Homo sapiens: one gene and its partners. The protein of the gene in region 1 purifies or fractionates together with the protein of each later gene. This does not show direct contact. Each region holds a gene or a part of one and is shown in the gene's direction. Other genes may lie near its edges.

Evidence for each region.
Region 2: the proteins of LMTK2 (region 1) and TADA2B purify together in Homo sapiens (affinity purification with mass spectrometry; one large-scale study listed by BioGRID and IntAct). This does not show direct contact.
Region 3: the proteins of LMTK2 (region 1) and INVS purify together in Homo sapiens (affinity purification with mass spectrometry; one large-scale study listed by BioGRID and IntAct). This does not show direct contact.
Region 4: the proteins of LMTK2 (region 1) and ATP9A purify together in Homo sapiens (affinity purification with mass spectrometry; one large-scale study listed by BioGRID and IntAct). This does not show direct contact.

What each region holds. Positions count from the first base shown.
Region 1 is NC_000007.14:98,196,908-98,201,497, forward strand, and holds part of LMTK2 (serine/threonine-protein kinase LMTK2 precursor), read left to right. Parts: intron 1-4,590. UniProt on the Homo sapiens protein: Phosphorylates PPP1C, phosphorylase b and CFTR.
Region 2 is NC_000004.12:7,055,912-7,058,452, forward strand, and holds the end of TADA2B (transcriptional adapter 2-beta), read left to right. Parts: 3' UTR 1-2,041; downstream 2,042-2,541. UniProt on the Homo sapiens protein: Coactivates PAX5-dependent transcription together with either SMARCA4 or GCN5L2.
Region 3 is NC_000009.12:100,298,243-100,300,458, forward strand, and holds part of INVS (inversin), read left to right. Parts: intron 1-2,216. UniProt on the Homo sapiens protein: Required for normal renal development and establishment of left-right axis. Probably acts as a molecular switch between different Wnt signaling pathways.
Region 4 is NC_000020.11:51,607,891-51,611,390, reverse strand, and holds part of ATP9A (probable phospholipid-transporting ATPase IIA), read left to right. Parts: intron 1-1,225; coding exon 1,226-1,290; intron 1,291-2,764; coding exon 2,765-2,873; intron 2,874-3,500. UniProt on the Homo sapiens protein: Plays a role in regulating membrane trafficking of cargo proteins, namely endosome to plasma membrane recycling, probably acting through RAB5 and RAB11 activation. Also involved in endosome to trans-Golgi network retrograde transport.

The sequences.
Region 1 (4,590 bases):
GTTTGCTTATGCGTCTCATGCAGCATGCCTTGAAGCGACAGCCACCAAGCGTTCAGGCCGAGGACTGAGGGTTTCCTCCCACTCCTGCTTTCTTTTTTAATGAGCTGGTTTTGAAGTTGTGTAGTTTTTAAGCAGTTGAAGTATCTTGGCTCCAAACTTTTAACTGAGTGTTCATGGGATTGGGCAGCAATTGTTTCTTGGTTATATTACTATTTGTCAGTTCAGCAAATACTTAACCAGCACTTACCGTGTAAAGTAGTAAAGGCTGGTGAACAGTCTGTGGGTGCCAGCACCTTTATTATACATTGAGTCTTGTTTTGCTTCCCCATGTGGGGGTGGTTGTCACCATCTTCATGGAGAGGACCCTGAGGCTCAGAGTAGGTAAACTTTGCACAGGGTCTGGCCCCAGTGAGTAGCAGTGCTAGGGCTTGACCCAAGTCTCCTGGACCGAGCACAGAACTTTTCACCACTGAGCCCTGCCACCTCTTGCATGCACCTTTACAATCTGCAGCCTGGCATCGCATTCGACTTTTAGCACTTGCGATGTCCTTCCTCAGTGCACAGTGTTCTTGAGACAAAAGTAGCGGGTAATGATGCTTACTTGCAATTAGTGCGACAGGGTTCCCTCCAGCCTGATCCGTCATACTGTAAACAAGCACTGAAGGCTGGGCACAGTAGCTCATTCCCATAATCCTAACATTTTGGAAAGCTGAGGCAGGAGGATCGCTTAAGGCCAGGAGGTGAGACTGGTCTAGGCAGCATAATAAGAACCGATTTTTAAAAAATTGGCCAGTTGTGGTGGCCCGCACCTATAGTCTCACCTGCTCAGGAGGCTGAGGCAGGAGGATCGCTTAAACCCAGGAGTTTGAGAGTGCAGTGAGCTATGATTGTGTCACTGCACTGCAGCCGGGATGGCAGAGTGAGACCCTGTCTGAGAGGCTCCTGCTCTCCAGCTTTGAGGAATAAACATTCAGGGCTCCACCTAGGTTTTTTTGGTTGGTTTGGGTTTTGTTTGTTTGCTGGCACTGTCTTTGGTTTTGTTATCAGAGTAATTAATGCTGGTCTCATAAAATGAGTTGGGAAGTATTTCCTTCTCTGATAGTGTTTGGAAGAGATTATGTAGATTTGTTGATCTTTCCAAAAAATTGCTTTTGTTTTCATGGATTTTTTTTTCTTTTCTCTTTCGTTGATTTCTGCTTTGTCTTTATTATTTCCTTCCTTCTCCTTGCTTTGAATTTATTTTGCTTTTTCTAGAAAAGCTTAGAATTCGAGACCTTACTTCTTTTCTCCTTTTTTTTTTTTTTTGAGACGTCTCACTCTGTCGCCAGGTTGGAGGGCAGTGGCGTGATATCGGCTCACTGCAACCTCCGCCTCCCGCGTTCAAGCAATTCTCCTGCCTCCACCTCCTCAATAGCTGGGATTACAGGCGTGTGCCACCGCGCTTGGCTAATTTTTGTATTTTTAGTAGAGACGAGGTTTCACCATGTTGGCCAGGATGGTCTCAATCTCTTGACCTCATGATCTGCCCACCTCGGCCTCCCAGAGTGCTGGGATTACAGGCCTGAGCTACCGCGCCTGGCCTCTTTTCTCTTTTTTTGAGACTGGGTCTCGCTCTGTCGCCCAGGCTGTAGTAGTGCAGTAGTGCGATCTCTGCTCACTGCAGCCTCCACCTCCCAGGCTCAAGGGATTCTCCTGCCTCAGCCTCCTGAAGTAGCTGGGACCACAGGCGCCCACCACCGTGCCTGGCTAATTTTTGTATTTTTTGTTTCGTCATGTTGCCCAGGCTGGTCTCGAATTCCTGAGCTCAGGTGAATCTGCCTGCCTTGGCTTCCCGAAGTGCTGGGATTATAGACGTGAGCCACTGCACCTGGCCTCTTCTTTTCTAATAATTTAATGCTATAAATTTCCCTTTATGTACTACTTTAGCTGCACCCAGCAAATTTTAATGTGTGAGTTTTCGTTTTCATTCAGATCAAAAAGTTTTTTGTAAGACTTCCTCTTGGGAGCATAGATTAACAAGTATAGTTTAATATATTAGTTATAATTAATAATTACTAATAATTGGTTAATATAGTTTAATAAGTATATTGTTTAATTTCCAAGAGTTGGAGATTTTATTGTATCTTTTTGTTATTAAATTTTAGTCTAATTCCATTATGGGCAGAGAACATATTTAATATGGTTTCAATGCTTTTAAATTTGTTAAGGTTTATCTTAGAGCCAGGATATGGTCTTTCTTGGTGAATTATTCCATGTATACCTGAAAGAGTGTGTATTTTGGTTTTGGTGGGTGGATCGTTCTATAAATGTCAGATTTAATTTGTTGATGGTATTAGTTCTTCTCTGTCATTGCCGATTTTTCTGCATACTTGTTCTATTACTCAGAGAGAGGTTGTTGAAGTCTCCAGCTGTGATTTTTAGATTTGTCTATTTCTCTTTTCATTTCTGTTTATTTTCGCTTCCTGTATTTTGCAGCTCTGTTGATGCATATACATTGAGGATGATGATGTCTTCTTGCTGAATTGACCTTTTTATCCTTTCGTAATGTCCTTCTGTATTCCTTTGCCTTATATTCATAGAGCTGCTCCAGCTTTCTTTCTTTTTTCGGAGACAGTCTCACTTTGTCACCCAGGCTGGAGTGCAGTGGTATGATTTTGGCTCACTGCAGCCTTGAGCTCCTGGGCTCAAGCAGTCCTCCTGCCTCAGCCCCACAAGTAACTGGGACTACGGGTGCACACCACCACACACAGCTAATTTTTGTATTTTTTGTAGAGATGGGGTTTCACCATGTTGGCCAGGCTGGTCTCGAACTCCTGAGCTCAAGCAATCCGCCCGCCTCGGTCTTCGAAAGTGTTGGGATTACAGGCGTGAGCCACCGCTCCTGGCCACGTTGTTTTGGTTAATGTTTGCGTGGTGTATCTTTTGCATCCTTTTACTTTTAATCTACCTGTATCATTATATTTGACATGAGTTTCTTGCAGATCTTATAGTTAGATGGGGTTTTTAAAACTCTGTTCTGAAAAATCTGCCTTTTAATGGTATGTTTAGATCATTTACCTTTAATAAAATTATTGATATTTTGGATTTACGTATACCATTTTATTTGTTCTATTTTTATTTCTATTCTTCCTCTTTTTAATAAATTGAACATTTTTAGTATTACATTTTTCTTTTTCTTTTTTTTTACACTGTTCTCTTTGCGTAGTTTTTGTAGTGGTTGTTCTGGGGGTTACAATGTATGTATTAAACTTCTCACAATCTACTTAGAATCTGTATTTGCATATTTCAGATGGAATGTGGAAACCCTACTGTCACTTAGGCCTTTTGCCCTCCGTCCCCTTCTTGACATGCTCTTCTATGTTGCATACATGTACACTGATAACTCCTCAGACAGTGCAACACATTTGACTTTCTGTCATCAAACACATTCTAAGAAACTCAAGAGGAAATGAATAGTATTATACAGTTGGCCCTGGAGCAACATGGGTTTGAACTGTGTGAGTGTACTTATAACATGGCTTCTTTTCAACCCAAAACAGATCGAAAGCACAGTATTCTCGGGATGTAGAACCTGTGTATAGATACGGAGGGCTGACTTTTTGTATATGTGGGTTCCGCAAGGCTAACCACAGGACTTAGTATGCACAGGTGTGGTTATGCACGGGTGGTCTTGTCACTGATCTCTGTTCAGATCGTTTCTGGAGTTGTCCCTTGGTTTCCAAGAAGTGGTGGTTCCATAATTTGGATACCATAATTAGAGGCTGCCCAAGTGCTTTATATGAAATGGCATCATATTTGCATATAACCTACACACATCCTCCTGCAGACTTTCAGTCATCTCTAGATTACTTATAATGCCTCATACACTGTAAATGCTATGAAAATAGTTGTTATACTGTATTATTTATTTTGTTGTTGTTGTTGTTGTTGTTATACTGTTATTTCTTATTTGTGGTTGTTTCTGAATGTTTTCTGTCCTGGTTGGTTGACTCTGAGGATGTGGAACTCTCTGATCTGGAGGGCCTCCTGTCCTTCTGTTCTTTTTCATTATTGATGTTCTAGGTTTCCTTCTGGAACCCTTTCCCTTCTAATTAAAGAAATTTAACTAGCTTTTCTTTTCTCTCTTTTTTTTAAAAACCCATTTTTTTGCAGGATTCCTTTTATTTTTAAATAAATTCTCTTAGTTTTTTTTTCCATCTAAGACTATTTCACACTCATTCCTGAAGCCTGTTTTCTCTGAGTGTAGAATTCTGTGTTGATAATTGTTTTCTTTCAGCATTTTAAAAATGTATCCCTTCCTTCCACCCTCCACGGTCTCTCATGAGAAATTTGCAGTCACTCAGATCATTCTTCTCCTAGAAGTACAAGTGGAGCGTCCCTTATCTGAAATGCTTAGGACCAGAAGCATTTTAAATTTCTGATTTTTTCAGATTTTGGAATATTTGCATTATACTCACCAGTTCAGCATCCCAAATCTGAAAATTTGAAATCCCAAGTGCTCCAGTGAACACTTTGGGCGTCATGTCAGCGCTCAAAAGGTTTTGGATTTTGGAGCATTTTGGATTTTTGGTTTTCCGATTTGGGATGCTC
Region 2 (2,541 bases), on another chromosome or scaffold:
TGCTGTTAAGACGTGAGTGCATTTCACTTGGAAGAACCCATTGTACAAAGTTCAAGGCTAAGAGTTCTGAATTCTGGCGTCAGCTTCCTCAGGATTTTCTTCAGTTGCAAGTACCTTTCCACTGAAAATATGAGCATGCCCGCCTGGCTAGTAGGCATCTGTAAGAGTGTCGCCAGGCCCGCGCCAGCTGAGGCCTCAGACTAGCCAGGCAAGAGCCGTCTGACCAGTTGGCTGGCGGTGGTTCTGGTGGAGCACGAGGGAGCCCGGGTGGTGCCCTGAGCCTCGAGCTGCTCTCTGTCACTGTCTTGAATCAGACTCAGAAATGGCTTCTTCCCAGCCCTGCCTACAAGTTTTTCTCTGGGGTCCTCTTTCAAGGATGTCCACGGTACCTTCCTCCTGAAACTTGAGGAAGTCTTTTGTCTTCCAGCTGCTCAGGGTTCTCTGGTCCAAGACCCTGCTTTAAAGAGAGTCTTTGGCGTGCTCAGACTCCAGCGCTCCGTTCTTCAAGGAGGTTGACTTGCCTCTCGGGCCCCGTAGGTACCAAGAGACTGTTTACCTCCCAGAATGTTTGGGCTTGAAGTTACATTAAAGTGAAGTTATTTGAAAGAAAGAAAACCTCATCATTTCTAAGGATGACTTAATTACTGTGCCTTTTCCTTTCTTTTTACACATCCTACTGTCCCTTAGGGTAAAATTTTCAGCATTAAATAAAACATTTCAAATATATTGTATATGGCTTTAGTTGTAAACTATACTGCATGCTGACAGAGAAGCGCTCTTTTAGCTAAGCCCAGAACTTCTCTTTTGACAATAAAGTACTGAGCAGTGGTATCATGAGGGCCACCTCCACATTGTCCCCTGCAGAATAAATGCGGATGACAGAAAGCTTATGCTGTCTACCACTGAACAGTGATGGAGATGGTGCTAAGTTTTTACAGTTGTCTTAGCCCCAGTGGTTCTCAAGGTGGGGCTCCTGGCCCAGCAGCAGCAACTTGTTTGTTAGAATGCAGACGCGCAGGCCCCACCTGGCCTCCTGAATCAAAATGGTGTGCGGCAGGGTGCAGCGAGCTGTTTTCACGAGGCCTCCAGGTGACTGGATGTAAGCTTGCTTGAGAACTATGGGTTTTAGCTATTCTGGTGTCTCCCTGATTTTCTACAGCGCCAGGATCCTAGTTTGGTGAGGTTTTAAATTTAATCTTATTTTTATATAAAATGATTGCCAGACGTACTATATTAAGCTTGAAGAAGCAGAAGATCCCTGTTAATGTGTATGGCCCAGGCCAAGAGCTGTCAAATGAAAAACTTTGTGCTGAAGCAGGTTTTTAGTATGTATATCTTTTTGATGGTATGAAGAATTTATTTAGGCTTGACTGTTTTAAAACACCATAATGAATGTATAATTAATTTATGTTAAAGTATTAACCCTTTGTCACAAAGGAATGGTAATGTGATTGGCTGCCTGTTAGCCCATCGACTATTCCCGTCACGGTAGTCCTTACCTCTGTCGGCAGCTCAGAGCCTCCACATTTTTATATTTAATTCTCATGATAAATTAGCCACCATAATCCCATGGAATTAGGTCTTGTTAAAATCTAGTCCGGGCGCAGTGGCTCACGCCTGTAATCCCAGCACTTTGGGAGGCCAAGGCGGGCTGATCACGAGGTCAAGAGATCGAGACCATCCTGGCCAACATGGTGAAACCCTGTCTCTACTAAAAATACAAAAATTAGCTGGGTGTGGTGGTGCATGCCTGTAGTCCCAGCTACTTGGGAGGCTGAGGTAGGAGAATTGCTTGAACCTGGGAGGCGGAGGTTGCGGTGAGCTGAGATCACGCCACTACACTCCAGCCTGGTGACAGAGCAAGACTCCATCTCAAAAAAAATCTAAGCAAACTATCTTTGAGTCAAAAAAAGTTGGATAACTCATCTATATTTGAAATAATGCTGTCTGAATGGCCAACATCCCAAGAATGTATTAAAAACAGCAACCCTGCCTACCGTTTTGATGACCTTTTTCCATATTAAACAAGTTGAGAACAAAAGAGTGTCACCGCTTGCTTCTTACCTCTGGTTCTGAAATCAGATGTCTTCTTGGAGCCACACAGAGCTAGGGGTGAGCCACAGTTCAAACACAGATACAGATTGTCACATGACGTACTTTTGGTACTTTGTATCAACCCAGTTTTTCCTCCAGAAGATTAAAGTTGCTTTGTCTTTTTTTTTTTTTTTTTTTGGGGAAGAGTCTTGTGCTTGTTGCTCAGGCTGGAGTTCAATGGCACAATCTTGGCTCACTGCAACCTCCGCCCCCCCGGATTCAAGCGATTCTCCTGCCTCAGCCTCCCAAGTAGCTGGGATTAACATGCACCCACCACCGCACCCAGCTAATTTTTTTGTATTTTTAGTAGAGACGGGGTTTCACCATGTTGGCCAGGCTGGTTTTGAACTCCTGACCTCAGGTGATTCACCTGCCTCAGCCTCCCAAAGTGCTGGGATTACAGGCGTGAGCCACTGCACCCGACCTAAAGTTGCTTTCTCTTAAGCA
Region 3 (2,216 bases), on another chromosome or scaffold:
CTATTATTGATCACTTTTACACATTTTTTCACACAAAGGAAATAAATGAAAATACTGTCACTCTTCAAAGGAATACCTTGGGAATCCTTGTTCCATTTTGGTGTCACACTATGATCCCCTATTTCCTTCTCCAAGATGGGAAGAACACCATGAAGAGAACACTGAGAGCATGTACAGCCCAGGCTCAGCTGTGCGTGCTTTCCCTCATACAGGAGAAGCTCAGGGAACTTTCTTTTCAGCCACCAAGACAAGAGTGTTTTACTTAGGGCCCCCTCATTCACACCAGCATTAAATATGGGTGATAAGTTCATTGCTGTCAGCAGCTAATGCCAGGTCCAGTGTTTCTCATAGGTGGCTATGGCAACACGCTCCCCCCTGCCTCCTCGATCCACACAGTCATCCTGGAGGAACAGAGTGCAGCTGGGAAGGTGAACAATGACTGTCAGCATGAACTTTAATATTCATTTAGTTTTTTGATGGGGGGCAAAAACCTGGAGGTGGGGGACAGAGTAATTACTGCCAAATCTTTAATAAGTGTTGGACAACTCATGTAATACAGACAGGCTGATCAGGGAGTGGTGGGTGGGGTAGTTAGAAACTTTCAAAGCAATCAAGGCCTACAGTCTGTTTAAAAACAAACAAACAAAAAAACCCCTTTCATTATACCTGAGCAAATTAAAGAATCATTTCAAAAACAGAATTGTCAGATATCACTACCAGAGAAGTGGCATTTAGACAATCAAATACTAGCATAAATTAGATAACTGGATCATTTTTCAGTCTTAAGAGAAAAACAAATCCAAGACTACCAGAAATCTTTTAAAATGGTGTTTAGCAGCATATAAGTTTTTTAGTTAAGAGACTCAGAAGGGACAGAGTAAATAAATTCAAATCAATACTTAATGATTTCTTAGGACTTCATATGAACAAGCAACTTACTTGTCCTACACATATTTTTGACTGGTTTAAAATCAGACAAGGATAAAATGATCTTTTCCTAACCCCAAATTTAGGAGAACACACAGTTTTGTTAGGCTCAAGCCCACCCACATTAAGCATTAACCAGTTAATGAATATTATTGCTCTCACCCTCCAACTTGGAGAACCCCCCACCCCCGAGGTTTTAGTAGTGCCTTTACCACTTAAAAAGGAAGAAGCAGAAAGGTGGATATAGCAAAATGCCAGCCTCCTTGGGCTGTTTCTCCACATGTATTTGGGAGGCAGCAAATCAATCCCTGCTCATGTCAGTCTTCTACACCCAGCCTTGCAAACCACCCACCAAGAATCTCAGCAGAGCCTTTTATTGACACACAACACACACACACACACACACACACACACACACACAGCCTTGCAAACCACCCACCAAGAATCTCAGCAGAGCCTTTTATTGACACACACACACACACACACACACACACACACACACACACACACACCTGGGCCTATCTCTTTAACAATAAAAGAAAAGAACTCCCTTTAAAGTTCCATTCCAGTGAATGGAATAACTGTGATTATTAGTATTGGTACCCCCTGTACAAATCCAGTTTATTCTTGCTCACCTGCAGAGGGGTACACAGATGACAACTCCATTCAAGATACAGTGAAGACAGCCAAAAACAATAGTTCACATTAAAATAATTTTGTGGAAGTTATAAAACCAAGAGAGAAAAATTGAGACATATGTTTGTTACTTTTAAAAACTACTAAACCTTTAATGTATTTGCTTATATGCTCCATAAAAAGTTAGAAGCAAAATATAGCAATGTCTTCAGCAAGGTTTCTCATATGGGGCCTCAGTATCATTTGTCAAAGTATATCACTAATGTTTTCTGACTGTGGCATCCTATACATTTGTTAATTCAAAGTCATAAAAAGGCCTCAAAAATCCATTTTGATATTCCCATCAGCTTATCATTCATGAGGATCTGAATATTTTCTAACAAACCTATTTTCTAGAACAACTATTCAAAGTGTAATAGGAGAGTTAAAAGATGTGTTACCTGTTTATGTAATGTGTTATGTGAGAGACCCAGAGAGAGAATCTATTTGTTATTTCAGGCAGACTGAAGACCGAGGTTCTGGTACCAGCTCCCCAAGTGCCTGCTCTCTCTTAATCAAGTCTCCCTTGAAGAGATGTCCCATATCTTGAGACTGCAGGAAATATAAAGCTATTATATTAAGTCATCCTGCCTCTACAGTAAACTGGCCCATCA
Region 4 (3,500 bases), on another chromosome or scaffold:
TTCTTGACATTTTTACAACCATCCTTCCTAAGCAGCGGCACAGCCTGGGTGAAAAGTCACTGGAAAAGTGGCTTTTCCGGCGCAGCCAGGGCGAACTGGGGCTTCCTGTGGCCATGGCGCTCAGGATCACCTGCGCTCTGAGCTCTGTGCCGAGAAAGCACGTGTTTCTTACATGCTTTCTCTCTGTGTCCATTGAAGGTGCTCTGGGGAGCTAGCCCTGGTCTGATGCTATTTCTAATGACTAGGGTATCTCTGCCTTGCTTTCTTCTGCTTTCTAAAAGCTTTCAGGCAGCATTTGTCTCTGGCCTTCCTTCAGCTTTATATGAATGGATATCAGCTTGGAGACCGTGTTTCCTCTGTTAGCCCATAGAGGTCCAGAGATGGAGCTAACAGAGCTTCAAGCCTGATTGGATCTCCCCAGCCTATTCATCATTACCAGCAGCTAATATTTTCCAAAGCAGGAAGCAGACATTTCCGCGAGGGTTTGTAAATATCTTCATTGCTTTTGTCTAATTGCAAAAATAATCTGTCACCATGCTCTTTTCAAAAATTTCCCCAAATACCGAAACATGTAATATAAGAAGTGAAGCCTTTTCTGCCATCCCAGCCCCCGTAGACACTTCAGAGGCTCTTTTTCTGTATGTGTTTCCATACCTACGGCACTTTGGTTAGCAGCGTGCATGCCTACAGAGGTGAGGATTCCGAGCTGTTTAGAAGTGTGGCCACAGAGCTGTGGCCACAGCTGGGCTTGAGTCCCATAGGGCTGTTTACCTGCTCAGCCTCCCCTTCTGTAAAGTGTGGGTGATAGTAGGGCTTGATCCTGTGGGCTGCTCTGGAGATCAGCTGTGCTCATGTACAAAGCATTCCTGGGTCCTGGAACTTAATAAATATTCACAACAGGCTGAGTAGACCCTGGAGCTGTGATACATCACCCTACCCGGGAATGATTCCTAGATTTGCTGCTTAGGAACTGTGTGGGCTTGGGCAAGCCACGTACCCTCTCTATGCCTCACTTTCTGCTTTGCATAATGAGGATGATGAGAATCGTACCTACTTCATAGGGTTGTTGTTGATGTTGTGAGAATGAAATGAGCAAATCCATGTAAAGTACCTTACAGCAGTGCCGGCGCGGGTGTTATGTAAGTATCAGGTGTTATTTTTATTCTGTAAATGTAAGGGATTTTGTCATGACTTTTGGTGACATCCTCCTCTCTCCTTGGCACAGGCTGTCTTTTCCTCCGTGTTTTACTTTGCCTCCGTCCCTCTCTATCAAGGATTCCTCATCATTGGGTAAGGAAATCCTGCCAAGGAATTAATTGTTTACAAAACCTTCTTCAAATGCTGCAACAGAGAGAAGAAACGTGGTGGAAAAATTCTTGGGTTCCCAAGCCACATTGGATTCCCAGCCCCAGCGAATGCAGGCCCAGCACCATGGTTTAGAACCTCCTTCAATTAACAAGGTTTTGAGCTGTTAAGCCCTTAACCAGATGGAGGAAGTGGAGTTGGAGATGTGTGTGGTGTGTTGCACTTTGCCATTTGTACCTGGTCTTGAAAAAATACTCCAGAGTTATCAGTTGATTGAGGAGAGCAAGGTGGAAGGTTTGCAGACTTGGTGATTTCACTGGGGTCTTAATAAAAAGGGGTGGGGGATCTGAAAAATGCCCTCCTGGCCTGAACTGAGCCCAGTAGAAGTCCCATCCTTGGAGCTCCAGGGAGGGCCAGAGTCCACTGCCTCGGGGATGTGCAAGTAACAGAGCTTGGCTGCTGTGCCACAGTGACAGAGATGGTGTCACTTGGGCCTTTGCAGCCTGCAAACCCACCCCCATTACTGACCTGGAACTTCAGGATGATCCTTCTGACCTTTTCAGAGAATGTGCTCAGTCTCTGAATCACCCAGGTAGGTGGAGTTTGGTTACCGAGTGCCCTAGATACAGACACATGCAGCTGAGGCCACTTCTGGTTATGAGGAGACGGCGGGTGCGGGAAGGTCAGCTGCGCTCTGGAGAGTCTCACAGAGTCCGCTTTCCATCCTACTGTGTTGGCTGATGAGTTCAGCCTGAGAGGAGGCACTAGAATTCTGCCTGCTTCTAACTGGAAAAGCGGGCTGTCTTTCGTCGGGTTCTGGAAGAGTACAAGAACATTACAGAATATAGTCAGGGGTTCCCTGAGCTGTGCGCCGTGCGACCTTCCGTGGTCTGGTCCCATCTTTCCCGTGGGTCCTCATTTCCTCTTCCGTCGCCCTCAGCCCCAGCCCCACTGGCCTTATGGCTGTTCTTCAGACATGACAGCCACTCCCGCCTCAGTGCCTTTGCACTGGTGGTTCCTTCTCCCTGGAATGCTCTTCCTCCTGGGATTGGCTTGGCTGGCCCTCACCTTTTGTGGGTGTTCACTCAAATGTTCTGTTCCTCAGCCTCTAAAATTGTACCATCACCCCCTACACACACACACACACACACACACACACACACGTCTTATTTCCTCTACCCCATTATATTTTTCTCTTTAGCACTTCTCTAACACACATAGAGTTTACCTAATTTATTTGTTTATTGACTCGCTGACCGGGATGAAAGCTCTTCAGGGCAGACATTTTTGTCCATTTTTGCTCATGGGTTTCTGGTGCTTACAGCCAGCCCCGGAGCATAATAGACAAGCAGTAAATATTTGTTAGAGGCATGGTTGGGACTTGGGTGCCGGAGGCTGGCACAGCACATAGCTCCTATCGCGTCAGCCAGGTCTTACCTATGGCGGTTTTCTCTCCCAGGTACTCCACAATTTACACCATGTTTCCTGTGTTTTCTCTGGTCCTGGACAAAGATGTCAAATCGGAAGTTGCCATGCTGTATCCTGAGCTCTACAAGGATCTTCTCAAGGTTCTGTTAGCTTTTCAGTCCCTCCTTCCTCCTTTCCTCCTTTGCTTTTCCCTTCCTTCCCTCCCTCCCTGCTTTTTTTCTTTGAATTTATTTCACACAGACCCTCCAATTCTGATTTGAACACACTTGAACTGGTAGCTTTTTTACTTTTGGGGGGAAGGTGTGGGAGTTTACATTTTTTCTTAAAGCAGTAATATATTCACTGGTATAAAGAACGTGAAAAAGTACAGTAATAGATAAACTGAAAACAAGCCAACTCACGACTTGCAAAAAGCCCCTGACAGTTCCGCTTTGCAGTTGCAACTTAACGTTTGCTCCCAGAGATGTTCTTGTGTACAGTTCCAAAAAGTGTGTGTGGTGGCGTGTGCCTAGGCAGGTGTATAATTTTATTTGTCTTCAGGGTTTTTTACCCAAGGGAAGGTTTATTCCCATGTAATGTTAATTTTAATGTTAATTCTTTTTTTTTTTTTTTTTGAGACTAATTCTCACTTTGTCACCCACGCTGGAGTGTAGTGGCTCGATCTCGGCTCACTACAACATCCACCTCCTGGGTTCAAGCGATTCTCCTGCTTCAGCCTCCCGAGTAGCTGGGATTACAGGCGTGCACCACCATGCCTGGCTAATTTT